Linked DNA regions of Homo sapiens. The protein of the gene in region 7 purifies or fractionates together with the protein of the main gene of each other region. This does not show direct contact. Each region holds a gene or a part of one and is shown on either strand. Other genes may lie near its edges. The genes, in order: XPNPEP3, SPG7, MCCC1, ATAD1, HDHD5, ACSF2 and MAIP1.

The links.
Region 1: the proteins of MAIP1 (region 7) and XPNPEP3 purify together in Homo sapiens (affinity purification with mass spectrometry; one large-scale study listed by BioGRID and IntAct). This does not show direct contact.
Region 2: the proteins of MAIP1 (region 7) and SPG7 purify together in Homo sapiens (affinity purification with mass spectrometry; one large-scale study listed by BioGRID and IntAct). This does not show direct contact.
Region 3: the proteins of MAIP1 (region 7) and MCCC1 purify together in Homo sapiens (affinity purification with mass spectrometry; one large-scale study listed by BioGRID and IntAct). This does not show direct contact.
Region 4: the proteins of MAIP1 (region 7) and ATAD1 purify together in Homo sapiens (co-immunoprecipitation; one large-scale study listed by IntAct). This does not show direct contact.
Region 5: the proteins of MAIP1 (region 7) and HDHD5 purify together in Homo sapiens (co-immunoprecipitation; one large-scale study listed by IntAct). This does not show direct contact.
Region 6: the proteins of MAIP1 (region 7) and ACSF2 purify together in Homo sapiens (affinity purification with mass spectrometry; one large-scale study listed by BioGRID and IntAct). This does not show direct contact.

What each region holds. Positions count from the first base shown.
Region 1 is NC_000022.11:40,929,557-40,933,509, forward strand, and holds the end of XPNPEP3 (xaa-Pro aminopeptidase 3), read left to right. Parts: 3' UTR 1-3,259; downstream 3,260-3,953. UniProt on the Homo sapiens protein: Catalyzes the removal of a penultimate prolyl residue from the N-termini of peptides, such as Leu-Pro-Ala. Also shows low activity towards peptides with Ala or Ser at the P1 position.
Region 2 is NC_000016.10:89,525,113-89,529,397, reverse strand, and holds part of SPG7 (mitochondrial inner membrane m-AAA protease component paraplegin isoform 1 precursor), read right to left. Parts: intron 3,070-4,285; coding exon 2,930-3,069; intron 1-2,929. UniProt on the Homo sapiens protein: Catalytic component of the m-AAA protease, a protease that plays a key role in proteostasis of inner mitochondrial membrane proteins, and which is essential for axonal and neuron development.
Region 3 is NC_000003.12:183,014,286-183,017,460, reverse strand, and holds the end of MCCC1 (methylcrotonoyl-CoA carboxylase subunit alpha, mitochondrial isoform 1 precursor), read left to right. Parts: intron 1-123; coding exon 124-195; intron 196-1,894; coding exon 1,895-2,023; 3' UTR 2,024-2,243; downstream 2,244-3,175.
Region 4 is NC_000010.11:87,783,211-87,787,495, forward strand, and holds part of ATAD1 (outer mitochondrial transmembrane helix translocase), read right to left. Parts: intron 1,461-4,285; coding exon 1,260-1,460; intron 1-1,259. UniProt on the Homo sapiens protein: Outer mitochondrial translocase required to remove mislocalized tail-anchored transmembrane proteins on mitochondria.
Region 5 is NC_000022.11:17,152,220-17,156,504, forward strand, and holds part of HDHD5 (haloacid dehalogenase-like hydrolase domain-containing 5 isoform 2 precursor), read right to left. Parts: intron 1-4,285.
Region 6 is NC_000017.11:50,460,448-50,464,732, reverse strand, and holds part of ACSF2 (medium-chain acyl-CoA ligase ACSF2, mitochondrial isoform 2 precursor), read right to left. Parts: intron 4,057-4,285; coding exon 3,861-4,056; intron 3,492-3,860; coding exon 3,363-3,491; intron 3,101-3,362; coding exon 3,047-3,100; intron 2,550-3,046; coding exon 2,431-2,549; intron 2,314-2,430; coding exon 2,148-2,313; intron 1,578-2,147; coding exon 1,482-1,577; intron 1,339-1,481; coding exon 1,181-1,338; intron 916-1,180; coding exon 824-915; intron 516-823; coding exon 439-515; intron 238-438; exon of another isoform or gene 208-237; coding exon of another isoform or gene 134-207; exon of another isoform or gene 1-133. UniProt on the Homo sapiens protein: Acyl-CoA synthases catalyze the initial reaction in fatty acid metabolism, by forming a thioester with CoA. Has some preference toward medium-chain substrates. Plays a role in adipocyte differentiation.
Region 7 is NC_000002.12:199,958,563-199,962,365, reverse strand, and holds part of MAIP1 (m-AAA protease-interacting protein 1, mitochondrial isoform 1 precursor), read right to left. Parts: intron 3,099-3,803; coding exon 3,027-3,098; intron 2,613-3,026; coding exon 2,486-2,612; intron 586-2,485; coding exon 438-585; intron 401-437; exon of another isoform or gene 259-400; intron 1-258. UniProt on the Homo sapiens protein: Promotes sorting of SMDT1/EMRE in mitochondria by ensuring its maturation.

The DNA.
Region 1 (3,953 bases), on a different chromosome or scaffold from region 7:
CTTGGACATGAAACACACTTCTGGTTAGATTCCAGTCAAGTTCTATAGGTGTTATTGGTAGGCAGAAAGGCTGTTGTAGAATTCTTCTGGTGATTTTCAGTCCCTGACCCAGGTATATTGTCCTTTGAGTCCCAGATTAACTAACTATAGCAGCTAAGCATTTGAATCAGACTTCTCATAGCAATGTTATGGGCTGTCTGATATATTCAGGATTTGTTGAGCAGATAAGCTGTGTGTGATCTTACTCATTCTCAGCCATGCCGCAGACATACCCATTTCCCTTTAGTAATTTTTTAATACAGAGAATGCTATTAACTGTTACTGGATATCAAATAATTTTATTTTTCTAATAGTATTTTCCAAATATTTCTTAAAATTCTTAAAATTTAGGTTAAAGTTTGCTGGTCTCTTACATTTAATAAAGCTGGGACTTGAAGACTTACCATAGTTTTCAACTGCCTTTGCAAGTTCATAAACTTCTAAGGGTAAAAAGTGAATAAGATAAATTCAGAGTTTTAAGGTAAAGGCTTTATATTAGCTTTTTTTTTTTTTAAAGGTTTTTTGTGGGGTTTTTTTGTTTTTTTTTTTTTTGAGATGGAGTCTCGCTCTGTCACCCAGGCTGGAGTGCAGTGGCACGATCTTGGCTCACTGCAACCTCCATCTCCCGGGTTCAGGCAATTCTTCTGCCTCAGCCTCCTGAGTAGCTGGGACTACAGGCGCGTGCCACCATGCCCGGCTAGTTTATTGTATTTTTAGTAGAGATGGGGTTTTACTGTGTTAGCCAGGATGGTCTCAATCTCCTGACCTCATAATCTGCCCACCTCAGCCTCCCAAAGTGCTGGGATTACAGGCGTGAGCCACTGCACCCAGCCTTTTTAAAGTTTTTAATTGACATATAATTGTACGTATTTACAGGGTAAATAATGATGTTTTGATACATATATAATGATCAGATCAGAACAATTAGCATATCCATCACATTGAACATTTATCATTTATTTGTGTTGAGCCTTTAGTTCTTTTTTTTTTTTGAGATAGAGTCTCACTCTGTCACCCAGGCTGGAGTACAGTGGTGTGATCTTGGCTCACTGCAACCTCCACCCACCGGCTTCAACCAATTCTCCTGCCTCAGCCTCCCTAGTAACTGGGATTACAGGCACCTGCCACCACACCCAATTTTTGTATTTTTAGTAGAGACGGGGTTTCACCATCTTGGCCAGGCCAGGCTGGTCTTGATCTCCTGACCTTGTGATCCACCCACCTCAGCTTCCCAAACTGCTGGGATTACAGGCATGAGCCACGGCCCCCAGCCAGAGACAGTCTTGCTTTGTCGCCAGGCTGGAGTGTAGTGGCGCCATCTTGGCTCACTGCAACCTCCAACTCCCTGGTTCAAGCAGTTCTCCTGCCTCAGCCTCCCAAGTAGCTGGGATTACAGGCACGCACCACCATGCCCAGCTAATTTTTGTATTTTTAGTAGAGACAGGGTTTCACCATGTTGGCCAGGATGGTCTTGATCTCCTGACCTCGTGATCTGCCCACTTTGGCCTCCCAAAGTGCTGGGATTACAGGTGTGAGCCACCGTGCCCAGCCGAGCCTTTAGTTCTAAGTATAATAAATAATATATATACCAGGCATTCCTATTAAAAATCTTAACTTAAAAAAAATTACTCAAATGTTACTACTGGAATTTTTCTCCCTGAATTGAAGATACATGGTTAGATCATTAACAATACCACCTAAATGAAGGAAACATATCTGGATATCCAGTGTCACATACTTTTATGTATTTATTTCAGGAATTACTATTTTGTCACCATAATTAGGAAACAGACTGTGTTCTTTATTTGAAACACAACAGTATAAATACTATAGTAAAGTTGGGTGCAGTGGATCACAGCTATAATCCCAGCACTTTGGGAGACCAAGGAGGGATGGTCACTTGAGCCCAGGAGTTTGAGACCAGCCTAGGCAACATAGAGAGACCTTGTCTCAACAAAAAAATTTAAAGTTAGCCAGGTGTGGTGGTTTGCACCTATAGTCCCAGCTACTCAGGAGGCTGAGGTGGGAGGATCGCTTGAGCTTAGGAGGTCAAGGCTGCAGTGAGCCATGATTGTGCCACTTCACCCTGGGCAACAGAGAAAGACCCTGTCTCAATAAAAAAGAAGAGAAAAACTGGAGTGAGAACTCTCCTCCTCTCATAATCATAGTATCCACGTTAGGAAAATGCTTCTGAGAGTAACTTAAAGTACTGTGTGTGCATCTTCCTTCAAAACCTTGCTTTTTTCTCCGTTTTTGTAAGGTGAGAAAGGGAAAAACCTTCACCGTAGAAATACTGTCTTGAGATTAAGATACAAATAAAACATGTTAAACCTCCATCTAAAGACATTGCAACTTATTAAAACAGAAAAATGTACCTTTGTTATGTCTTTCCAAATATCCACACCCACACCCTGTTCAGCTTTGTTAATAATACAGAGATCAGAAATGTGAAGCACAAATGCTGCTTCTCCCCCTCCTGTTCCCATGTCAGAGATGGAGAAGAAAGCACAGTGAGCTGTTCACCAGTCCAGCGGTGACCTCGGAGTCCTTTGTAACAGTGTTTCCAATAACTTCTGCCAATAAAACAGAATTTGAGTTAGAACCTATCTGCTGTCCCTCAACTAGTGTCTGATAGCTGAGAATGTAATTCGTTTGTGTGTCTATTAGAAAATTAGGCAGGCACCACAGACAGTAGCAACATAAAGGAACCTGCTTAGAAGAGGTTTTTATGGTGTGATTGTGTTTTTTTTTTTTTAATTTTTGTTTCCTGAAGTAGAATCCATAGCTCAAAACAAGTTTTAAGCCTGAGAAAATATAATTTGAGGTGTTTTTTATGCTCCTAATGAAAAGATGAATGAATGCATCATTAAACCTTAACAGTAGAGCAGAATTTCACTGTTACAAACCACATGGGTTCTCCTGGTTGTGCTGCTGTTCTCTACCTGTGTGTCACTGAGTTTGAGCATCATTATTGTTTGAATCAGAGGACCCACTGGAATCAAGGCTTCTTGGAATTGCGCAAGAATCTGAGAAAACTTCAATCTTTACCAGCATTTCTTAATGCTTTCCATGACTTTTGTGCAATTATATAAGTTCAGTTTAGACAAAATGCTGTTACTTTTTAAGGCATTACTAATAACTGAAAATAGTTACGTCATTGCCCATCAAGGGAAAAGCACTTGTAACTGTCATTTAAAAAAAATAAAACTATAAAACAATATAGAGGGGTATGGTGTGTGTGTGTTACTTTAGAATCTAGAGTTTACGGTCTATTTAGTATAAACAGTATAAACGTGAGACCATCTGGTTTTACAAAATAATTTACAAAGTATTCATTAGCTGCTGTCACAAAATCATGATAGCAAACTTGAAATGATTTTATCAGTCTTATAGAGGAAGAATCTGGTGGATTTGATCCAGCCTATTAAAAGGTTGGCACAAAACTGACTGAAAGGTCTCCAGAAAGTCCCCATAACACTCAAGACTGTAAACTGTAGCCATGCACATTTTATGAAGGATGAATTTTGTGGGGAAATAGGATCAAGTTGCAAAATTATGAATATTTGACCTTTGTCAACCATATAATGAATCGTAAGTGTAGCCATCTCTCTCTCCCTGTTAGGAACCATCTTTAAAATCTGAGACTGTCTATGAGGAGTACCTTTAACATTTCTCACGTTCTGGCAGGCACAAAAAGATACTTTGTATGGCACAATGGAACAAATTTGAGGGGGCTGAGTGGTAAGTACATATGACTTGTAGAAAAAAAATTATTATACATCCTTTAACTATGATAAGAAAAATATGTACAGTGAGCCACCATGGCTGACCAACAAACATGAAATTTCTTATAATGGGAATGGATTTCTAATCCAGTTGAAATATTTTATATCAAATATTTCAAAATAAGCTAT
Region 2 (4,285 bases), on a different chromosome or scaffold from region 7:
TGGCAATGTTTCCAAGATGAGACGAGGAATCCCTACGTCTGGGACCGATGCGCAGATTAAAATGGTTGTGGAAATGGGTTCTCTCGTCTCATTCTCGCTGACTGTGCTTTTTCATGAAAGCTTCCCAAATGGTCAGACTGAGTGTGCAGATGCCGGAGATCTAGCCAGCCTTGTGACAATAACAACGTTCAGGTTTTTCTATTTTCAGTATATTTTGTTTTCAAATGTAAGCGATCAGCTTCAATCAGGCAGGCAAGATCAGCCTAAGAGTAAAAAGCAAATCTCAGGCCGGGCGCGGTGGCTCACGCCTGTAATCCTAGCACTTTGGGAGGCCGTGGCGGGTGAATCACAAGGTCAGGAGTTTGAGACCAGCCTGGCCAACATGGTAAAACCCCATATCTACTAAAAAAATACAAAAATTAGCTGGACATGGTGGCATGCGTCTGCAATCCCAGCTACTTGGGAGGCTGAGGCAGGAGAAATGCTTGAACCTAGGAGGTGAAGGCTGCAGTGAGTCAAGATCGTGCCACTGAACTCCAGCCTGAGCTACAGAGCAAGACTCCATCTCAAAAAGAAAAGAAAAATGTAAGAATAAACCCTGTGTCTACTAAAAATACAAAAAAACTTAGCTGGATGTGGTGGTGTGCATCTGTAGTCCCAGCTACTCAGGAGGCTGAGGTGGGAGAATCACTGATCCTGGGAGGTCGAGGCTGCAGTAAGCTGAGATTGCACCACTGCACTCCAGCCTGGGCGACAGAGTGAGACCCTGACTCCAAAAAAAAAAAAAAAAAAAAGCAAATCCCAGGACTTTTGCCCTCATCCTGAGGAGGGGCTGCCCTGGGCCTGCCCCAACCCTCCATCTTCTGTACATCATCAGCCTACAAAGACACGAGAATGGGCCTGCCCCAACCCTCCATCTTCTGTTCTGTACATCATCGGCCTACGAAGACATGAGAATGGGCCTGCCCCAAACCTCCATCTTCTTCTTTTTTTTTTTTTTTTGTTTGAGATGGAGTCTGGCTCTGTCACCCAGGCCAGACTGCAGTGGTGCTATCTTGGCTCACTGTAAGCTCCGCCTCCCGGGTTCACGCCATCCTCCTGCCTCAGCCTCCCGAGTAGCTGGGACTACAGGCACCCGCCACCGCACCCGGCTAATTTTTTTTGTATTTTTAGTAGAGACGGGGTTTCGTCGTGTTAGCCAGGATGGTCTCGACCTCCTGACCTCGTGATCTGCCCGCCTCGGCCTCCCAAAGTGCTGGAATTACAGGCGTGAGCCACCGCGCCCGGCCCAAACCTCCACCTTCTGTCCATCATCGGCCTACGAAGACACGAGAATGGGCCTGCCCCAACCCTCCATCTTCTGTACATCACTGGCCTACAAAGACATGAGACACACAGCCTCAGAGCAGTGATCTTCCAGGTGTTGCTGGGTTATAGAATTAAAGGTGCATCTTTTTTTTTTTTCTGTAGAGATGGGGTTCTCCATGCTGCCCAGACTGGTCTCGAACTTGTGGGCTCAAGAGATCCTCCCTGCCTCAGCCTTCCAAAGTGCTGGGATTACAGGCATAGCCACTGCACCCGGCTAGAGGTACATTTTGATCAAGGGAGTACTTGCCAGTCACTGGCATTCTACATCTTCAGAGATTACAAGTCAACAATAAACCTCTGTTTCAGTACCCGCTGGCCCCTCATTTGTCCTACTAAGGAACCTGTCAGGGTCCATGGTCCATACGTGCTGACAGCTCCCACCTGGTCTGTTTCCCTCTCAACACTGAAATGAGAATTTCACCTTCCTGTGTCTACCCTTTTCCCGTTCCATTTTCCTGTCTGTAGAAGAGAGCAAGCCCAGGACATTATCACGGTCCTCCTTGACTTTCTTTCTTACTGCTAGGCTGATCTTGCCTTGCTAACTGAAAGTGATCGCTTACTTTTGAAAACAAAATATACTGAAAATAGAAAAAGCTGAACGTTGTTATTGTCACAAGGCTGGCCAGATCACTAGGTATCTCCGGCATCTGCACACTCACTCTGACCATTTGGGAAGCTTTCATCAAAGAGCACAGTCAGTGAAAATTATACAAGAATGTGAATTCAGAAGCGCCACACAACTAAAGAAAGTGACTAAACAAACTCCAACGGACTTGCACACGGTTGGCCTCCACAGCCACAGGTTTCATCTCTGCAGGTTTAACCAAGCACAGAATGAATGTATCTGGGGAAAAACGTGCATCTATACTCAACATGCACAGACACATTTTTGTCATTATTCCCTAAAGTATAACAACGATTGAAATAGTATTTACAGGGTATTGGGTATTATTATCAACCTACAGATGATTTAAAGCATATCAGAGAATGTTCTTAGGTTACACACAAAGATTTCGGCATTTTACACCAGGGGCTGAGACTTCGCCATCCTACGTCGGGGGCTGAGACTTCGCCATCCTACGTCGGGGGCTGAGACTTCGCCATCCTACGTCGGGGGCTGAGACTTCGGCATCCTACGTCGGGGGCTGAGACTTCGGCATCCTACGTCGGGGGCTGAGACTTCGGCATCCTACGTCGGGGGCTGAGACTTCGCCATCCTACGTCGGGGGCTGAGACTTCGGCATCTTACGTCGGGGGCTGAGACTTCGGCATCTACATCAGGGGCTTAGACTTCAGCATCCTACACCAGGGGCTTAGGCATCCTCAGGTGCTGGTATCCTTGGGAAGTCCGAGAACCAGCCCCCATGGATACCCAGGGATAACTATATTTCCAAATCTCCTGGCATTGTATCATTCACTTCTATATTTATTTAACCCTCCCACTAAAAAGTCTAGTTAACTATAGGCAAAGACAGTTTGAGATTTTTGATTGCAATCTGTTTCTCAGATTACAAAGCCAAGTTAGGTTTAGTTCAAGCATCAACAAATACATCCAACATACTTTCCAAAGAATCCTGTTCGCTTGTAGGAAACTGGGATCCTGTCCTTGGCCTCGATATTCAGCTCATCTTCAGCTGCTCGAAGCTTCTCTTCAAACTTGTCAATATTTGCAACCTGCATTCGGTACATCAAGGCTAGCCGCTGGGGGGCAGAAAGGAGAGGGGACCATGAGAAACGCAGGGACAGACGAGCAACCCTACAGTCAACAGAGAGCCCGCCTGGAACTCATGGTAATGACAACCTCAGCATTGTGAAGAGGACACCATTCAGAAACTAGAGGTGATTCCTAACGTACGACGGTTCCACTTACGGTCTTTCCATTTTACAATGGTGTAAAAGCAATATGCACACTAAGCTCCTTGACCTACGATGGGGCTACCTCCCAGTGAGCCCCTGGGAAGCTGAAAATATCCTAATTCAAGGAACATCTGTACTTCCAAGTCTAAAAAATTTGTTTCCTCAACCACAATTTGAGAAATAAAATTTCAACAGATAGACTTTCTATTTTCCACTCATAGGAAAACTAAGAAATGGAGGGATGTCTGCAAGTTAGCTCACAGCCCCACGTCTGATGTGTGCCTCAGACTCAGCTACACCTGCAGACACAGCAGGAGCCCCCCAGAGGCCGGCGAGGCTGCAGCACGGGACTGAGGATGGCAAAATCAAGACTACGGCCAAAAACAGATGTTTTAGGAAACTGCGGCCACAGAGGGTTCATGTTTAACCACAAAACCTGAGACTGTTCATCCCTCACACCAGGACACCAACAGGTCCGTCTCCCTGGCACACGATTCTCCAAACGCAGCGTTTTCCTAAGTAAACTCCGCATGTTTAGCTCAGATTTCAGCATGACTGGACGGCAACACCCCAAAGGGAGGACACAGACGGACTTGCGGGACTCTCTTTGAGGTTAACTGGAAACTCCAGCAGAGGACAGGGATGAGGGGTGGGGATGGCACCTGCTGCTCCCTCACTCACACCCCAAACTGCTAAGACAGAATTCTGAGCATTTTCTCTTTAAGGCAGCTGTTTTATCAGGTGACTCGTCTAGAGCTGAGCATAGTGTTGTAGGTTAAAATAACCTTCCAGACTGAAATAATCAGGCATCCACCAGAGGATTTACGTGAATGAGCACCGTCTTCTGCACTTAGCCATGGTGTATTTTAAGAACAAGGTTTCCTGTTTTTAAAAATAGCAAGACAGCGCCAGGCGTGGTGGCTGACGCCTGTGATCTGGCACTTTGGAAGGCCAAGGTGTAAGGATCACTTGAGGCCAGGAGTTCAAGACCAGCCTGGGCAATATAGTGAGACCTCATCTCTCCAAAAAAACAAAAAATTTAAAAATTAGCCAAGTGTGG
Region 3 (3,175 bases), on a different chromosome or scaffold from region 7:
CATGGTTTGCAACATGATGTTATGAGTATATATAGACAGTAAAATGGTTACTATAATGAAGCAGATGAACATATCTAGGACCTCTGTGTTTTCAAATATTAACCTGTCACACTGAATCTCAAGGTGTTTGTCAAAGCTGGAGACAAAGTGAAAGCGGGAGATTCCCTCATGGTTATGATCGCCATGAAGATGGAGGTAAGGAAATCATGAGTTCATTTGCTATGAGGACTTTGGGAGCAATCATACCTAATGGTTCTTTTGCCTTATTTTGTAAGTTAATACCACCTTAAATATGAAAAGCCATGATTGACGAAGCATTAATTGTAGGAAACAAAACCAAACTATCCTTCTTGTAGAAAAGAGTTTTACTTTAACTTTGTGAAATTGCACCTGTCATTTCTGATTCTGAAATTAATGAAATTATCAATAGCTTGGAATCAGGCGATAATCCAACTGAATGTTAACTGTTGGTATTTTCTAAGATAATCCAACTGAATGTTAACTGTTGGTGTTTCTGGAATGTTAACTGTTGGTATTTTCTAATGTTAACTGTTGGTATTATCTTGGTTCTAAGGCCGAACCAAGGATGCCAGGCATCAGTTTCAAAGTGAAAACCGCAATCAAATTAAATTAGCTGTTTAGGTTTTTAGATGGTTCAAATGGTAGGTCAGTGATTCTTAGCCCTGGCTGAATATTGCAGACAGTCCTCAACTTACAATGGTTCAATTAAGGATTTTTCAGCTTGACAATGGTGCAAAACCATACACGTTGAATATGCTCCTCAGCTTACATTGGATTTATCTGGACCTGACCCCATCGTAAGTCAAGGAGCATGTGTACAGTCACCTGGGGAGATTTGAAAAAATTCTTCCCCAGACCCATTGAATTGCAATCTCCAGGAGTAGAGCCCAAGGATCAATACTTTTGAAAGGCTGGGCGCAGTGGCTCATGCCTGTAATCCCAGCACTTTGGGAGGCAGAGGCAGGCGGATCATTTGAGGTCAGGAGTTCACGACCAGCTTGGCCAACATGGTGAGACCCCATCTCTATTAAAAATACAAAAATTAGCCAGGCATGGTGGTGCATGCCTGTAATCCCAGCTACTCAGGAGGCTGAGGCAGGAGAATTGCTTGAACCTGGGAGGCAGAGGTTGCAGTGAGCCGAGATCTTGCCACTGCACTCCAGCCTGGGTGACAGAGCGAGACTCCGTCTCAATTTAAAAAAACAAACAACAAGGCCAGGCGCAGTGGCTCACGCTTGTAATCCCAGCACTTTGGGAGGCCGAGGTGGGTGGATCATGAGGTCAGGAGTTCAAGACCAGCCTGGCCAACATAGTGAAACCCCGTCTTTACTAAAAATACAAAAATTAGCCAGGTGTGGTGGCACACACCTGTAGTCCCAGTTACTTGGGAGGCTGAGGTGGGAGAACCGCTTGAACCCGGGAGGCAGAGGTTACAGTGAGCTGAGACCATGCCGTTGCACTCCAGCCTGGGTGACAGAGTGAGACTCCGTCTCAACAGCAACAACAACAAAAAACAAAAAAAAAAAAACAAAAGCAAGCAAACAAAAAACTGTTGAAAGCTTCCTAGGTGCAATTCTCATGTGAAGCTCAAGTTGAGAACTGCGAGCTACACCAGAGCTTCCCAGTCATATCGTTGAAAGGTTACTGCTGTGTCCCAGTGTTCATTCCTCTCAACTTGTTACTGTTCTCCCTGTGTGCTGTGATGTTAAAAATAAAAACAACAACAACAACAAAGCGTTGGAAAGCACCGAGAGATGACAAAACATCAAAGTTGGCTACAGTTTTCATTTTTGGTCTCCCTTTCTTGACTTGGTGTATACTCAGTCCTCATTAGTATTGCAGCTATCATTTGTCCTGTCATGTGTCTCTGCAGCATACCATAAAGTCTCCAAAGGATGGCACAGTAAAGAAAGTGTTCTACAGAGAAGGTGCTCAGGCCAACAGACACACTCCTTTAGTCGAGTTTGAGGAGGAAGAATCAGACAAAAGGGAATCGGAATAAACTCCAGCAAGGAAATGGCCAGTTAAGTAGTGTCTTCTCTCTCCACCAAAAAGAGGAAGTGCCTCCAGCTTTTCTGGGGGTCTCATAAAGAGCAGTTTTACTAAATGATTGTATGCTTATGCTGAACACCTTTCATATTGGAGAATCATGCATTTGGGTCACTAATTATCTCAAAATATTTCATACTAATAAAGTTGAATTATTTTTTATTGGAAGCCAATGTTTGTTTCTGCCTCAAATTTTTTACAAGGTAGTCTCTTTTAGGAAGGGGGGAAGAGAAAAGGACATTTAATTAAATGAATTACTTTCCAGTTGCTGTTATGATGAAAATGAGCAGTAATATGTTTCAGAGACAGGTGCCCTGGAGTTCAACAACTAAGGTTTTGTCTGGCCAAAAAGCAACTTGCTAGGTAGTTTAAAAGACATGGATATTAGTCGGGCGCGGTGGCTCACGCCTGTAATCCCAGCACTTTGGGAGGCCAAGGCGGGCAGATCACTTGAGTTCAGGAGTTCGAGACCAGTCTGGCCAATATAGTGAAACCCGTCTCCACAAAAAATAAGCTGGGTGTAGTGGTGAACATCTGTAGTCCCAGCAACTTGGGAGGCTGAGGCAGGAGAATCGCTTGAACCTGGGAGGCAGAGGTTGCAGTAAGTCGAGACCGCACCACTGCACTCTAGCCTGGGTGACAGAGCGAGACTCTATCTCAAAACAAATACATAAATATAAATAAGTAAAGACACGGATATTGTTTCTAGTGTTTGTGATTGGAAAGTTTCTAACTAGATTGCCTCTGCCTTTATTGTACTTTCTAAGCTTATAAAAATATATGTATTATATATCTATTACATGCTAAAATATATTAATATTTAATATAACATTTTGGTAAATTTGAAAAGCATAATTTTACAGAAAAAGTTGGTAAGAGTTAAAAGCCTGAGCCTGCTGAATGCTTTTTTTAGAAATACTTTTTTCATTATGAAGAAAAACCATTCAGTTTACTTTTGTCTAGATTCTGTGTTACTTTTACTAACAGATGTGCAGCCCTTTGCATTTTTATGTATTCATTGAAGTGTTAAATATTTGTTGAATTGAGTTCTTGCTGAATACATAAGACTATGCTAAATGTTGTGGAAAATACAGAGAAATATAAA
Region 4 (4,285 bases), on a different chromosome or scaffold from region 7:
CTCTACAAAAATTAGTGGTGTGTGGTAGCACACACCTGTGGTCCCAGCTACTCAGGAGGCTGAGGTGGAAGGTTCACTTGAGCCTGGGGAGGTTGAGGCTGCAGTGAGCCATGATCACGCCACTGCATTCCAGCCTGGGTAACAGAGTGAGATGCTGTCTTAAAAAAAAACAAAAACAAAATAAACTAGCTATATATTCCTCTGTTCAAGATGCACACCAAAACACCAAAATAACTGGAGTAAATTGATGAGAAAAGATACATAAAGCAAACAAGTAACCAAAACAAAGCTATACTACATATTTGTATCTATTTTTCTCTCTACATATTTACATAGCCTATCATACTAAATTTAACAATAATAAAATATAATTCAAAACTACAGTAATAAAGCTATATAAATATATATCCAATACTAATAATACTGTATTAGTATAACTATATATATTTATATATACATCGTACCAGGAACAGAACAAAAATATTGATCCATAATATAGCAAGAGTCCATTAATATAAAAGTCATGACATACAGCAAAGGATAGTCTAGTTTGCTGTCTTTTTGGAAAAGAATGAAATTAGATTCCTATCTCATGTTATATATAATTTTTAAAAAGAGAACATTTATGGGGATAGTGAAGGTATTTGTAAACCAGATACAAAACGTATAAACCACAAAGGAAAAATACTGACTATAGCCAAATAATAAACTGTAAAAAAAAAACTATCAGAAAAAAGATAGACTAGAAAATAGGTGTAATCATAATAAACATCAACAAAAGAAAACTACAAATAACTCCAAAGAAATATTGACAATTCACAAATAAGAAAACCCAAATGGCTAATCAACATGCTAAAAGATGCCCAAGTTTACTACCAAGCAGGAAAACATAAATAGGTATAATAACTAAAGAACTGGTAATCCTAGTGAGGTTGAAGATAGATATATCACACAACCAAATGATTCAACTTCTAGGTATCTTTCCCGGGCAAACATATATACATGAGAAAACATGTACATGGATATCTACTGCATACTGTTTGTAACAGAGAAAAGACAGAAAAACCTATCTATCAAGTAGGGGAGTATATAGTCTATGGTTCATTCTACAACACAGAAATTATACATAGCATATTATGATGTTGGTTATGTTCTTTGTTTTATTAACATGGCCTAATAAATGTTAAAAACTAAATCTGGTTATCTAAATATCTCTAAAAATGGCCTTTAAAAATACTCATATAGAAAACATAGCATACCTATTTCATCTATAAAGATGATGGATGGTTGTAGCTTTATGGCAAGGGAGAAGACAGCAGCAGCCAATTTCTGAGATTCTCCATACCACTTATCGGTCAGTGTCGAAGGCTGAAGGTTAATAAATCGACAGCCTGCTTCTTTGGCTGTGGCCTTGGCAATCAACGTTTTACCACAGCCTGGAGGCCCATAGAGAAGAACACCTGGAAATGAATATGTTATTTATTACCTTTAAGGGGATATTTGCTTCAATTTATATGATAATCAATAGAATAGTAATTCCTTCCACAAAAAACTTTCCCAATATTCAATTCTGCTTTTATTTAATCTTGTTTATAGTAGGTAAGATAGAAGAAAGGAAGATGCCATGTTCTAAGCTCAGTGTCAGTTAAGAGCATGTATTTGGGGATTACAGCATCCTGTGCCCTCTCCCTTCATGAAAAGGTTCAGTTTAAATGCTCACCTTGACATCCAAATTCATACCACTTTATCAACAGTTGAAAAACAAAATCATCTAAGGCCCTCCACCTTCACAAGCAAACAATGCACCATAGTGCTTTGATATTAGCCTACAGAAGGTAAACAACTTCAAAACAGATTGTGGCAAACACTGTTTTGCTGTTGCTCACAGATTAAGTTTTAGCCAAAGGACATGTGCCTTTTTCCAAACAATCTTTTCCTAAAAGAAACAGAAATTATCAGTCACTCCTGTTTTAATTTCCAAAGAATAAAACTATATTATTAACCTATGGTCTCCATTAACAGCATTTTGCTGCTAAATACAATTTAAGGTAACACTTTTAATACAAGGGATCTAGAGGTTGGGATCTTGAACATTTTGGGAACCACCACCAACTGTTTCTCAACTAAAATGAGATAGCATTTTCTAAATTTAATAATATTAAATATATAATAATACTAAATATATAATACTAAAATTATAATTTTACCAAATTACTAAACTCAGTACTACATGATCTGGCACCTAAACTTAGTACTAAGATGGTTATTAAAATAAACCATCTACAGACAGCCCTAACAAAAACTGTAATAGGCAGACCTCTCAAAATATTTGTTTAATTCAAAGCTCAACTTTTCCTATGAAACAGTATTTTTTAAAATGCCATCTATATAGATGGCATGCTAGGGTGAACTGGAAGGGATCTGGAGGAGTCCAAAATTTTCTTATATATAATAAAAATAAAATTCAAAATGAGAGGAAAAATAATTTTGTATGAAAATTCCCAAAAATATCTCAATTTAAAAAAAAAAAGAAATCTGCACCTGATTCCATAACTCTAGCAATTTTATTTTTCACATCAAACACTTCAAAATAATGTTCAAGCTCTTCCTCAAGCATACATAGAATTTTCTACTGGTCTTTATAATTCTTGAAGATTCAAGTTCTAACAGCAACTAATCTAAGTTTAATCATATGAAACTAAACTTTTCTAAAGCTGACTTTTAAATTTAAATCCATAAGCTTTACCAATACATGTTAATTGTATTTTCAAGCATTCTGCAAATTTTAATTAAGTTCACTTAGGTGCTTAAAATTTGGTTAAGTCAGTTATAATTTGAATCTTCTACTGACATTTTTCTTTTGGATGGCTCATATGAAACAATAAAGAATAGTAATCTAAAACCACCTGTTTGCAGATACTTGGAATTATTAATTTCATCATTTTGATCACATAATTTAATATAGAATGCATATCCATTATAAAACTTTTATACACATGTTACTTAAATCTCTGGGTTTTTATATTGTTACACTTGGTACTTTCTTAAAAACTAAATTTCAAGGTTTTTAGAACAAAGTATTTATGCAAAAGCCTCCATATTTTGTTGACTTTGTAGCTACTCTACCACTTCATAAACATATTCAGAGATTTTAGAGTGTTGTGTTTGATTCAAATTATTCATCTATCACTTGGAATATTTCCCTTCTAGTAGATCGGTTTTGTTACTTTTTAGCAGGATTAAGTTTTTCCTCTTCAAGGATTACAATTAGTGTTATTAACTGAGCAGTTATGAGTGTCTGGAGTGCCTAAAGATTCAATATGCAAAGAAAGCTTGTGGCTATCCTAACTTTCTGGGGACAGGCTGTAACAGAGAAGGTACACAAGCTGTCAATATTCCCTTCTTGACCTGGGTAGTAGTTACATAAGTGTGTTAGCCTTATAGTTATTCAGTAAACTGCTTTATCCCCATTCCTGTGGCTCACGCCTGTAATCCCAGCACTTTGGGAGGGCGAGGTGGGCAGATCACGAGGTGAGGAGATCGAGACCATCCTGGCTAATACGGTGAAACCCCGACTCTACCAAAATATAAAAAATTAGCCAGGCATGGTGGTGCACGCCTGTAATCCCAGCTACTGGGGAGGCTGAGTTAGAAGAATCTCTTAAACCCGGGAGGCAGAGGTTGCAGTGAGCCGAGATTGCGCCATTGCACTCCAGGGTGGGCAACAGGGCGAGACTCCGTCTCAAAAAAAAAAAAAAGTTACACTAAAATTCAGATTGGCTTGTCTGACAAATTATCAGTGAGTCTAGAGATAACGTTATTTAGAGTGGCACCTTTTCTATATACTTTCCTAAAATGGTCTCCACAGTGATAATAATTACGATGGGTGACAAATGAGTACTGCAATGAATGTGAGGCATTTAGCTTTTATTATTAGCTTTGCAACCTTTAAATTAGTTCTTTGAGCTTAATCTGATACTTTTATAACCAACTTCAACAAATAAAAACTGTGTTTATTATCTTAAGCTTTATAGAGGCTTAAAAATTTAAACTCCTTTTTAAGACGGATGTTTTTGGTAATGGCTTTACTTAGTAAGTGCTATATGCAAATAAAAGATTTAGGAAGAGGATGGGCACAGTGGTTCACACCTGTAATCTCAACACTTTGGGATGCTGAGGCAGGAGGATAACGAGCCCAGGAATTCAAGACCAACCTGGGCCACAAAGTGAGACCCTGTCTCTACAAAAAATTAAAACATTAGGCAGGCATGGTGGTACATGCCTT
Region 5 (4,285 bases), on a different chromosome or scaffold from region 7:
ACCTGAACTATAGAAAAAAATTTGGCTGCAGAGAAAAGACTGCATTGGGTGGACTGAAGGGAGTTAACTGAAAGACCAGGTGGGACCAAATGCAACCCAAGACAGAGAAGATGGAGCATTTACCTGGGAGAGTGGTGGTAAGAATGGAGATCAGGGGGCATTATCAGAGACAGAACAGTCATGACTTGGTAACCATCCAGATACAGGGGTGGAGGGAAGAGGGAGCCACACGGACTCCCATGCTTTTTTATTTTGGTCTGGGAACCCGGGAGGGTGGATGCGGGTATGAGTCACTGAACCAAAGGGCACAGTAGGAGCGGGCAGCGAGAGGTCATTGGAGGATACAAGGTTAAGTCCCACTTTGGACCTGGGAGACAGGCAAGTGGAGACATCAGCACTGGACAGGTCCTGGAGATGAAAATTTTGGAAGGTCTCGCCTCTCAGAGAACCAGGAAGAACAATACTACTTAATAATGGACCACACAAGACCTGCCAGCAAAAGACAGTGCAAGGAGGAAAACCAAGAGCGTGTGGGGTCCAGGAAGCTGAGGTATGTCTCGGGTCCAGTAAAACAGGGACTGGAGTGGCTGTAATGATCCCATCTTCTTTCCACTGAACAGGCAAGACCCCCGGGAGAGGCAATCTTCCAGCTCCTCCTCCATGTTAGCTTGTACATGAGCCCTCCAAGCTTGGACAATGACAGCTACAGAGCCAAGCAGGAGGAGGGCAGGGACCCTGGAAAAACAGGAGGAAGCAACTCGAGCCAACAAGATATCACACCTGAACACCAAAAAACAGCTGCCAAGAGAAAACTGACCAAGCCCCACACGCCACACAGGAAATGCCTGGACAAATGGTGCCTCTAACCCTTGGCTTCACAGGCTTATGCTGTTGCACCCAGACCTGTCACTGTCCCAAGCACTCAGCCAGACATGTAACAAAGGCATTTTTATGTATTCTTTTTGGCAGCCCTTTGAGGAAGTGTCAGCATCTCCAAATGGCCTTGCCTGGCAAAATGTGCCGGTTTATACAAGGTGTTCAATATACAGGCACTAAATTACCTGACTGGACAAATAAGGCATCAACCTCAAAAAGAACTCAGCAAGGGTCACCCAGTTCACAAGTGCTGGATTCAGGATTCAGTCTCAAATTCAGCTGGCAACTCGGCAGCACCTCAGAGAAAACAGGGGACCCCAGGACTGCTTCCCCCACCTCCTGCCAGCTCCCAGCTGTGAGTTCCATTTCTTCTCTCTCCTCAATACACTCATGTACCCTCAAGGATCCCTGGAGCCCCTCCCTATTCCCCAAGAAATCTCACTAGAATGGGGGTCCTAACCTAGGCCCACAGATAGATTTCAGGATGGCCATAAATCCCCTTTAAACACTACAAGCATTTTTCCTGGGAAAAGTAACCATAGCACTTTTCGGATTTCATTTTCTTATTCTTCTCAAGGAGAATCACTACCTGGGCTTAAAGGGAGGAGGGGATGTGATTTGCCCTTTACCCCCATACCTGACACAGTGCTTAGACTCACAGGTGATTGACAAAGGCTGACTGGATGCTGAATGACCCAAAGGATAAATGGTTAGGGAGAAATAGATACTTCCCGACCACCCTATCCCTTTCTGAAGGAAAAGAGTGGCTCTTAGAAAGTAAGTCCCTTAAGGACTGGGTGATTCCAACACTTTTTTGTGGCGTGATCTTGGCTCACCGCAACCTCCATCACCTGGGCTCAAGCGATCCTCCCACCTCAGCCTCCCAAGTAGCTGGGACTATAGGTGCGCACCACCAAACCCACCTAATTTTTGTATTTGGCAGAGATGCGGTTTCCCCAGGTTAGTCTTGTCTCAAAGCTGGTCTCCAACTCCCAACCTCAGGCAATCTGCCCACCTCGGCCTCCCAAAGTGCTGGGATTACAGGCGTGAGCCACCGCGCCCAGCCAACAATTTTTTTAAGAAACAGTGTTTCTTTAAGAAACTTGGCTGGGCACAGTAGCTCACGCCTGTAATCCCAGCACTTTGGCAGGCCGAGGTGGGCAGATCGCCTGAGGTTGGGAGTTCGAGACCAGCCTGACCAACACGGAGAAACCCTGTCTCTATTAAAAATACAAAATTAGCTGGGCGTGGTGGCACATGCCTGTAATCCCAGCTACTCGGAAGGCTGAGGCAGAATTGCTTGAACTCGGGAGATGGTGTTTGCAGTAAGCCAAGATCACATCGTTGCACTCCAGCCTGGGCAACAAGAGGGAAACTCCATCTCAAAAAATAAATAAATAAAAACAAAAAATAAATAAATAAATTTTTAAAAGGCCTAGATTTTAAGTGATATTAAGGAATTACTAATGTTGTTAGGTATGATACTGGCATCGTGGTTATGTTCAGAATGTCCTTATTTTCTTTTTTTTTTTTTTTTGGTTGAGACAAGACAGGGTCGCACTCTGTCACCAAGGCTGGGTGCACTAGTGTCATCTCAGCTCACTGCAACCTCAACCTCCTGAGCTCAAAGGATCCTCCTGCTTCAGCTTCCCAAGTAGCTGGGACTACAAGTATGTGCCACCACATGCCTGGCTAATTTTTTTTTTTTTTTCTTTTGTAGAGACAGGGTCTCCCTATGTTGCCCAGGCTGGTCTGGAACTCCTGGGCTCAAGTAATCCTTCCAACTCCCAAAGTGCTCAGATTACAGGTGTGAGCCATGGCACCCAGCCAGAATGTCCTTATTTTTCTTAGAGGTACACACAGAAGAATTTAGGTTTGAAATGACAAGAAATCAGAGATTTACTTTAAAATCTTAGAGCCACAAAAAAAGGAGGAGGGAGATAAGCAAAGCAGGTGTTGAAAAATGTTAATCATTGCTCAATCTGGGAGATGGGCACAGGGGTTCATATTATTCCCCATTTTTGAATTTTTGAAAACTTACATAGTTAAAAAACAGCTCATTTGTACAATGGTTGCAAAATTTACCATACATAGTTTTAACGGTCATTGCCTAAACAGTCACAAGATTTGCTTTCCTTTTTTTTTTTTTTTTGTTTGGTTGGTTTTTTTTGAGACGGAGTCTCACTGTCACCCAGGCTGGAGTGCAGTGGTGCAATCTCGACTCACTACAACCTCTGCCTCCTGGGTTCAAGTGATTCTCCTGCCTCAGCCTCCCAAGTAGCTGGGACTACAGACGCGCGCCAACACACCTGGCTTATTTTTTATATTTTTAGTAGAGACGGGGTTTCACCATATTGGCCAGGCTGGTCTCAAACTCCTGACCTCGTGATCCGCCCGTCGCGGCCTCCCAAAGTGCTGGGATTACAGGCATGACCCACCGCGCCCGGCCCAAGATCTGCTTTCTTAAAAATAAGAATCCATAGCCCCTGCTACTTAGAACAGCAAAGTTTTCAGGAAAATTGAGCAATATCCATAAGGCTCCCTCACCCATCACTCCAACCCCTCCCCAACCTTCAGGATGTACACAGAGAACCAGGCACCCAGTACCATAAAAAGTGAAGGTGTACATCAATTATAACAAATGTACCACACTAATGCAAGATGGTAATACAGTCACGCACCATAACGATGTTTCAGTCAATGACACACTGCATATACAATGGTCCCTTAAGATTATAATGGAACAGGAACTCATAGCTGAAGAAGAGGCAAGAGAAAAGGTAGCCACAGAAAGAAAAGAACATCCAAGAAAATTCACAGTGAAGGGTTCAGCAGCTTTTACAGACCTCAAGTTCCTTAAAAAGTCTGAAACATGAACTCCAACGCCAAAAGGTTTTCATTACTAGAGAAGAATGTTTATGGTACATTATCTGTTTACAAGCAAACCTATGACAAAAAAAAAGAAACCAAGCAAACCACAATGGACATATTTCTGATAAGAGTGACACCTCAAGAGCCTCAGAGAGGTCCTTCAGAAGATATCCAGAAGAAAGCACTGTTATCGCAGATGACAGTTCCATGCATATGACTGCCCCCTAAAGACCTTCTAATGGGACATGGTGTGAAGGCAGAAGACAGTGATATCAATTACCTGACCCGACCTTATGTAGGCCTGGGCTAGTAGGTGTTTGTGTCTTCATTTTTAACAAAAGTTAAAAAAAAAAATTTTTTTTAAGGTAGGGCACTGTGGCTCACGCCTGTAATCCCAGCACTCTGGGAGGCCAAGGCGGGCGTATCATGAGGTCAGGAGTTCGAGACCAGTCTGGCCAACATGGTGAAACCCCATCTCTACCAAAGATACAAAAAATTAGCCGGGCGTGGTGGTGCACACCTGTAATTTTTTTTAATA
Region 6 (4,285 bases), on a different chromosome or scaffold from region 7:
GGCCACCCTCCCAGGATCATCCTTCCTCTGTTCCTCTTTCCCTGCCACGTGGAAACAATCATCAGATCCTTGCCCCACCCCTTGCTTCCAGAAAGGGTTTTAAAGCCCATGCCCCAACTCTGCCAGCCCCCACCTGCCAGGACGTTCTAGCAGGACATCGGTGCTTTGCTGTCCATCTTCCCATGCTGCAATTTCTTCCTGAGATTTCTATAAATATAAATGTATGTATGTATTATATTTACTCCCCTGCCACCTATCTCCTTCACCCACCAGGTGCTGATGAGGTCAGACTATCTTTTCTCACATCTGCTTTCTGGAAGGAGGGCTGGCTGAGAGGGTCTCCTTTGAACATCTGGCCTGGACTCATCCCCATGTCTGTCCATCTGCTGTCATCCCAGGCCTGGCCTGCCCACAGCCCGGGCCGCAGTCACCACTCACCACCAGGTCCTTCATATTTATCTTGTTGATGATGGCTCGGATCAACTCTGGAGGTGCAGGGGACCCAGCAATGACACCTGAATCAGAGAGAGGGCTGACACAGCTCCCCAATTCTCCAGGCCCAGTGGAGTCCTTTCACCTACAGCTCATTCAGGGGAGGAACATTCCCTTTTCTCCTCTGACCCCGAGCCTTTCCTACACCTGGCAGCTGGCCCTGGGCTGGTGTCCAGGGACACTGGGGATCTCCCTCCCTCCCACCCACATTTTTACAGCGTCCTTCTTGCCCCCTATATAAAAGACTGGGAGCATAGCTAACTCACCCGGGCCATTCCTGTGGGGGAAGCAGCCCCCTCCCCAAGCCTGGCTGCCCTTGGCCCCACCCCACCTCCACACATGGTCGAGATGTCATAACTGGAGAAGTCTGGCTGGTTCAGAATGTCCACGAACATCGTGGGGGTACCATACAGGAAGGTGCCTCTGTATAGGAGGAGGTCTCGAAATTAGGCTTGGAAGTGGAAGGGAACTCCCTGTTCTCACCCACCCCGCCATGAAACTGCAGCAAAGGGAATAGGCAGGAGAAGCTCCTGAGGCAGGAACTGGTCCTCTCCTGGGGGTCCTCCACTGTCCCCATCCTCAGTCTCCTGGCTGGAGGGAGGAGGCAGCTTGGAAAGGTGTCAGGGCCCAGGAGTGAGGAAGAAGAGGGTTTTATCAGCCCACAAGTAGCCTGTCCACCAGTGCCCACCTCTCTCTGCTGATGGCCTCCAGTGCCTTCTTGCCATTGAAGATGGGAGAGGCCAGGATGAGGGTGGCACCGTACATCAGACACATCATTGTGCCTGCCACGGAACCCAGGCAATGGTACAGGGGGTTGGGCAGGATCATCCGCAACTGCTCTGGTGTCTGGTGATGGAGACAGGAGGCTGGGTCTGTCTTGGAGCCAGACGCCAGTTCCTCTCTAGCTGGCAAGGGGAGCCCAGCCAGCCCCCCACCCCTGCCTGAGCCACCCCTCCTGCAGCCTTGCCCTGGGCCTAGTGCCGCCTCACCTTCTCATGCAGTTTCAGGCGCTCTCCTAAAATGTTGGAGTTGTTGACAATGTTGTAGTGGGAGAGGGTGGCCCCCTTGGGGCTGCCTGTTGTCCCCTGACAAGGCAAACAGGGCATGGCTTGGCCTCCTTCTCATCTCCTTCCCACCCTGGGCCACTGCCTTGAAGAGCACGGGACCGGGAATCAGGAGACAGGGATTGTTGCCCCAGATCCATCTGTTCAGTATATTTGCAAAAGGTCTACCACGATACCAGGTGTCAGGGTCCAGCAATGCAGAAGATAAGGTCTCCGTTCTCATGCCACTTACATGGCCCAGAGAACTCTGCCACCCACAAGCTGGCTTGGGCAAATTCTCTCTTCTGCGTCTCTGATTCCTCATCAGCTAAATGAGGGGCAGCCTGTAGCAGTTCCAACCTGTGTTGGTTCAGTGAATCTGCCACTGCACCGGGAACAAGAGGGCTGGAGTGGAGAGGGCGGGGGGCTAGGGGAGGAAATGTGACAAGGACACCAGGTGCTGATATTTTCCAGGGCAGAGAGGACAGCTGAAGGCCAGTCTCAGTAAAGAAGGCATGCTCTCCTCTGCTGTCTCCCCATCCCCGCGGAAGTGTCACAGGGACAGGGGGCATGTGTCCATCTGGGCTTGGGGCCTGGAGACCTCTGCCCTACCGAGGTGAACTGGATGTTGATGGGGTCATGGCAGGACAGGAACTGCTGGTTGTATTGGAGCTGGTCCAGATGCTGCCGTGTGCTGCCAGCCGCCACCACTTCATCCAGGAGCAGGGTCCCCGGCAAAGGGGCATCCACCGAGATGACTGTGGTCAGATCTGGGAGCCTGGGGTTGGGGACGATGGTGAGAGACAGGGGCTGAGGGAGGGGGCAGGGTGGGTAGGAAGTGAAGGAATCAGGGATGCTGAATGATGCACCACCCACTAACCTGGGACACACCCACCTCTGACTCTTCAAGGCCCCTGGCTGGGCATTCTCCACTTCTGGACAGATCTGCTTCAGGACGTTGTAGTATTGCTGGGTCTTGAATTGCTTGGGGAACACAAGGGCCTTGCAGCCCACCTGTGGAAGGGGAGTCCCCCACCTCCAGTCAGCGGGGAGCCCCAGACTAGAGCTCTGGGGGAGTCCTCACTAATCAGCTGCTCTCATACAGATGCACCCGCTTCTGACACACACACCTCCAGCACACTCACAGGCACCACACTCCAAGACAAATGCACACATGTACCAGCCCCGAGACACACACACCACACCCTGAGACACATATGCATCACATATGAGGATGGACACACGCACACACACACACACACACACACACCTCTGCCCTGACACACACATGCCCCCGTCCCTGCACACTCACGCCAGGTTTGTGTCTGACCAACCACGCTCTCCTTGGAGTTGGGGCCACCTTCCAATCACACATGGCCTAAGGAAGGACACTCTGCGTATCACCCGCCTATGCATGCCCTAGCTCACACCGTCAGACTCTGACAAGCAGAGTCTGTGCAGCCCCCTGTGCCAGGCCCCAGCCGGGCCCCTCCCCGACAAATGAGCTGTACCTTCTTGAGGACATACTCCAGTTCCATAGCCTGGTAGGCTGGGTTCACAGACACCTGGTGGAAGCGGCGAGGGCATATCAGTATTCTGGGCAGACCCTGTCCCTCCTGCTGCCCCTCCGCCCCCAGGAGGCATAGAGGCAGCACTCTACAGCCCCCTAACTCCCAGAGACCTCCTTGGTGGGCCTCAGGAGAAAGCACTACCTGGTTTGAAACCAACAAGGCACTGGTTTGATCCTGGGGCTGAGGGCCTGAGGGGCTCCCCTTCAGTGATGTTCCCCCATGCACACCAAGCTGTGCCAAGCAAGCCCCTCCTCACCAGAATGATGCCCGCCTGGGCGGTGGCCAACTGCATGAGCACCCATGCATAGGAGTTAGGTCCCCACATGCCCAGCCGGTCACCTTTGCAGAGGCCAATGCTCAGGAGGCCAGAAGCAGCTTTGTCCACCTAGTGTAAAAGATGGGGCGCAAGGGGTGAAAGGGGGCAAGCAGGAAGGGGCCCAAGACTCCCACCCTCAGCCCTTAGCCCGGAGTTCTCATCACAGTCACTGGGGACAAAGGGACAGGCAGATTCCCAGCCTCAGTGGGTCTGCCCTGGGGCCTGCATAGTTAACAGGTGCCCCAGGAGCTGCTGATACAGGAGGCATTGGACCCCTTGTGCGTCAGTCCTGTCTCCTTCTCCTGCCATCCCTCGGGGTTCTCTGGCAGCCCTAGCACATTGCCCCATAGCCAGGTGCCCACGCTCCTGGTTCTGCCCAGCTAGGGCAGCTTGGGAGCTAGTACTTGCCCACTTTGAGGTTTCCAGGTCAGGACCCACCTCCTCCTTGAGTTGGGCAAAGGTCAACCTGACGTCTTCATGGAGGACGACCAAGGCCTCTCGTTCTGGGACCCTCTGTGCTGTGGTCTCCAGGCACTGGCCCACAGTCTTGCTGTTAAGATGCTTTTTGGTGCACCCCTGAACGTAGCTGAGGCCTCCGATGGGCGTGGAGACCATGCGATCCACCTCTCTGGAACTGTAGGGAGAGGAGCTATGGGTTTGACTGTCCCAGATCAGTCTCCCTGGAACCAAGGGCATGGCACACCCAGCCAAGCCAGGGGGTAGGCTGCTGACAATGTGTTAGAGACCACTAGGTTTCCTCCAGATCTTCTTGTAAGCCTAAAATCCCCCAGACCCTTTTCCCAACCTCAAGCCTAATCCCAAGGCAGCAGGACAGGGACAAGGTTACACCAAGCTGGAGCAAA
Region 7 (3,803 bases):
CATGCAGAAGCCAAGGAGTACCAAGGTGCCACCCATGCGAGTTAAGAAGTCACTGTGGAAATGAATCCTCCAGCTCCTGCCACTCGTGTTGATGCCAGGTGAAGCAGAGAAAACCCCCTAACTGAGCCTATCCAAAATTTCTGAGCAGTGAAATAGCAGGCAAAGTCAATGGCTGTTTGAAGCCAATGAATTTGGGGGTAGTTTGTTAAGCAGCAATAGACAGCTAAAACATCATTTAATTAAATTCAGCAACTTTACCTCTTTCTAATTTCTTAACTCTCCTGTTTCATATCCAGTGTGTCTTTCTGACCTTTTCTCTTCATAAATAACTTGTCAAATTTCAATTCTTTTCTTCCTAAAGATCTCTTAGTTTTCATACCTTCACACTACCTTCCATTTTCTGAAGAAAGGAAACAATGAAATCTGATTAAACTTACTCATAGCTTGCACTAAGAAGTTGTTTAGTTTCCACATTCTGATTCCCCAACTTAACCTGGAATACACTGGCTCCTCTTAAAGTTTCACTGGGGATGTTGGCACTGGTTAGATACCAAAAGCACATCAGGATGTTAACAAACTTCCTTCCTTAGAGAAAAAACATATACACACATACGAATACAAATCAAAATAATCTATCATCCATATAAACAAAATGAAATCAGAAATTGGCAGCAGTTATACAGTTGTTACAGGTCAAATTTTGTGCTTATTCTGATGTGACTTAAAATACTTGTATTGATACTATTTTATTTTTAGAAAATTGTCTTAGGGTTTATGGCATACTTGCCCTCTTCTCTGTATCTCAGTAATAAAACTACTACTTAACTGAGCACGTACTTTACTAAGTATACTACATGGATTATTTTCAATTAGTGGCATTTTCTTTTTCTTTCTCTTTTTTTGACACAGAGTCTCACTCTGTCACCCGGGCTGGGGTGCAGTGGCGCAGTATCGGCTCACTGCAACTTCCGCCTCCCAGGCTCAAGCGATCCTCCCACCTCAGCCTCCTAAGTAGATGGGACCACAGGCACGCACCACCATGCCCGGCTATTTTTTCATATTTTCAGTAGAGACTGGGTCTTGCCATGTTGCCCAGGCTGGTCTTGAACTCTTGAGCTCAAGTGATCCACCTGCCTCAGCCTCCCAAAATGCTAGGATTACAAGTGTGAGCCACCACATCTGGCCAGGCATTTTCTAAGATTATAATAATCTCCTGACAGATACCTGTTGTCAAACCAAAAATGAGGAGAAAAAAAATATTTTTTGCTGCTCAGTAACTATCTTAACTTCAACTGCCAGAAAGAGTAAAGGCTTCCTATTCTACCCAATTCACCTTACTGTGCCTGGTGATTCTGACAAACTCCTGATGCAAAAATTAGTTAGTGACCATGGTGCTGAGATGCAATTTGAAATATTAGGGAAGCGGAAAATATTTATCACTAAAAATATCTTTACAAATATTTCAAAATAATGTGTGCATGAAAAATTTTATCATCACTAAGAGTCTTTTTCTTCCATCTTGGGAAGTGTATAAGCAGAGGCTCCATTTCCTGTGTGGCTGGCACATAATACATATGCAAATAGAGTCATCCCTCAAAATCCACGGAGGATTGGTTCCAGGACCCCCCTGTGGATACCAAAATCCACAGATGCTCAAGTCCTTTATATAAAATGGTGTAGTATTTGCATAACACACATCCTCCAGTATACTTTAAATCATCTCTAGATTATTTATAATACCTAACACAATGTAAATGCTAATGTAAATAGTTGTTATACTGTATTATTGAGGAATAATGACAAGAAAAAAACTGCACATGTTCAAGTACAGATGCAACTATTTTTTTTTAATATTTTTTACCCTAGATTGGTTAAATCTGTGGATGCGAAACCCCCAGATACAGAGGGCCAACTTTGTATGTATCAGGAACAAACAGTGAATTATCAGGAATGCTATAGGGAAAATGTATGCCTCAGACAAGAAGAACCAGATAACCACTAAATTTCCTACCAACTTTTTTCATTATTCTCAAATAGATCCAATTTGGGAGTTCTGCAGTTAACCTTTTCAAATTGTCTTTAGCTGACAATATCTAATTTGATTTTCTTTTACCCCTCATTCCTTCCATATAAAGTGCAGCTTTAAAATACTCAATTGTTTCCTTCAAGTTAGGAAATCTGAAACATAAATATTTTCTATTTGAGACGTGGGAGCCACTCAAACTATTTTCATCAATGTAAGTGATGATGTTCTCTACTGTGAATAAAATAGTAGCAGAAAAAAGTTCTAGATAGAAAGGCTTAAGAAATGATGACCATATCTCAACTCTTTCAGAAGTAGGTCTTTAAAGAATGGATATAACATTTTCTTTGAAGTTCTATAAATACTTGTCCTGACAAAACTCTACTATTTTGTGATTATCCACTAGTTTAGCTTATCTGGACAATTATGGATCATTTCAAGTTGACTATGCTCTGGTATTACCTTTCTCATCATAGTAAATGGAGATGTCTCCTGTTGATGTAAATACAATTTCATCTATGTTAGCAGCAAGGGCATTTTTATGGTTGTCAGGTAGTGAAGTAACCTTTTCTTTCAATGCATGTAGCACCTAAGTTTGAAAAAAGCAAGCCATTAGTTCACTGATACAATTTTTGAAAACTTTCAAAAAGTGATCTTTATCATGGAATACATTTTTCCAAACCTATTTTTAAATTTACTACCGTATTTACTCATCCTCAAAAGCAAGGCTGAAATGTATCTCATTATTCAAGTAGGTAATTCCTAACAGAACATTCCATATAAGAGCAATTGGAAGACATCATGATTACTTCATTATGCCTTAAGTGGCAGGAGTTATTCCATGCTTTTATATGACCCAAAGTACCCATAAGAACAGATACACAGACTCTACTTTGGATGCTGGCACACACACTATTTTTAAGCATAAATAAGGAAAATGTGCATCATTCTATTGCAAGAGAATAGCATTTATTTTTAAAGCAAAATGTAAAATATACTTTACCTCTTTGGCCACAAGTTCTTCCAACAGATCAAATTTACACTGTGACAGCAACTTGGATACATGAGCAAAAGCCTTGAAAAAAATATTAAGGGAAGTGTGGGGATTATTATTTCAAAATACCATACCATGTTCATATTTAAATGGCTAAGTGTAATACAGACTATTTTATGGTAATAGTGATAAACAACATCAAATATTAATTTATCAAGGCATGACTCTTGGTTGACTTTTCATATATGGCCTTCCCACATATATAGCAGTAAGTGACTTGACCTTTAATTCTGGATCCACTCTCAGGACCGGGAAATGATAGTGTGTGGTGTACAATCTAGATGTCTCAATAAAAATCCTCCTTTATATTTCTTTTTAAAATGATGAAGTAAACAATCATTTGGCAGTTATATGACCTACCTCTTAATCATGCATAGATAGCAGTTGGAAAGGAGAACAGTCGAGACTGCATTGGGAGTCTGGAAATCTGGGCTGTAGTCTGAATCTCAGTATGGGAGATAATGTAGGTTTGGGAAAGTGGGAGAGAAGGTCATTAGTTTATGTGGTCTAAAACAGTAGATCCTAACTTTGAAGTATGAAATTCCATTTTCAAGGAGGGAAAAACCCAACTGCAATTCTCCTCACTGCTAGCAATGAGAAAGCAAACTGTGAGTTAAGATCCTACCTGTCTTCAGGGAACTTTCAGTCTACATGGGAAAAGGACAAGTAAACTGACAAGTTGAAGAATTTTGACAGGGATAAGAACAGGATGACTTGGGAGCATAC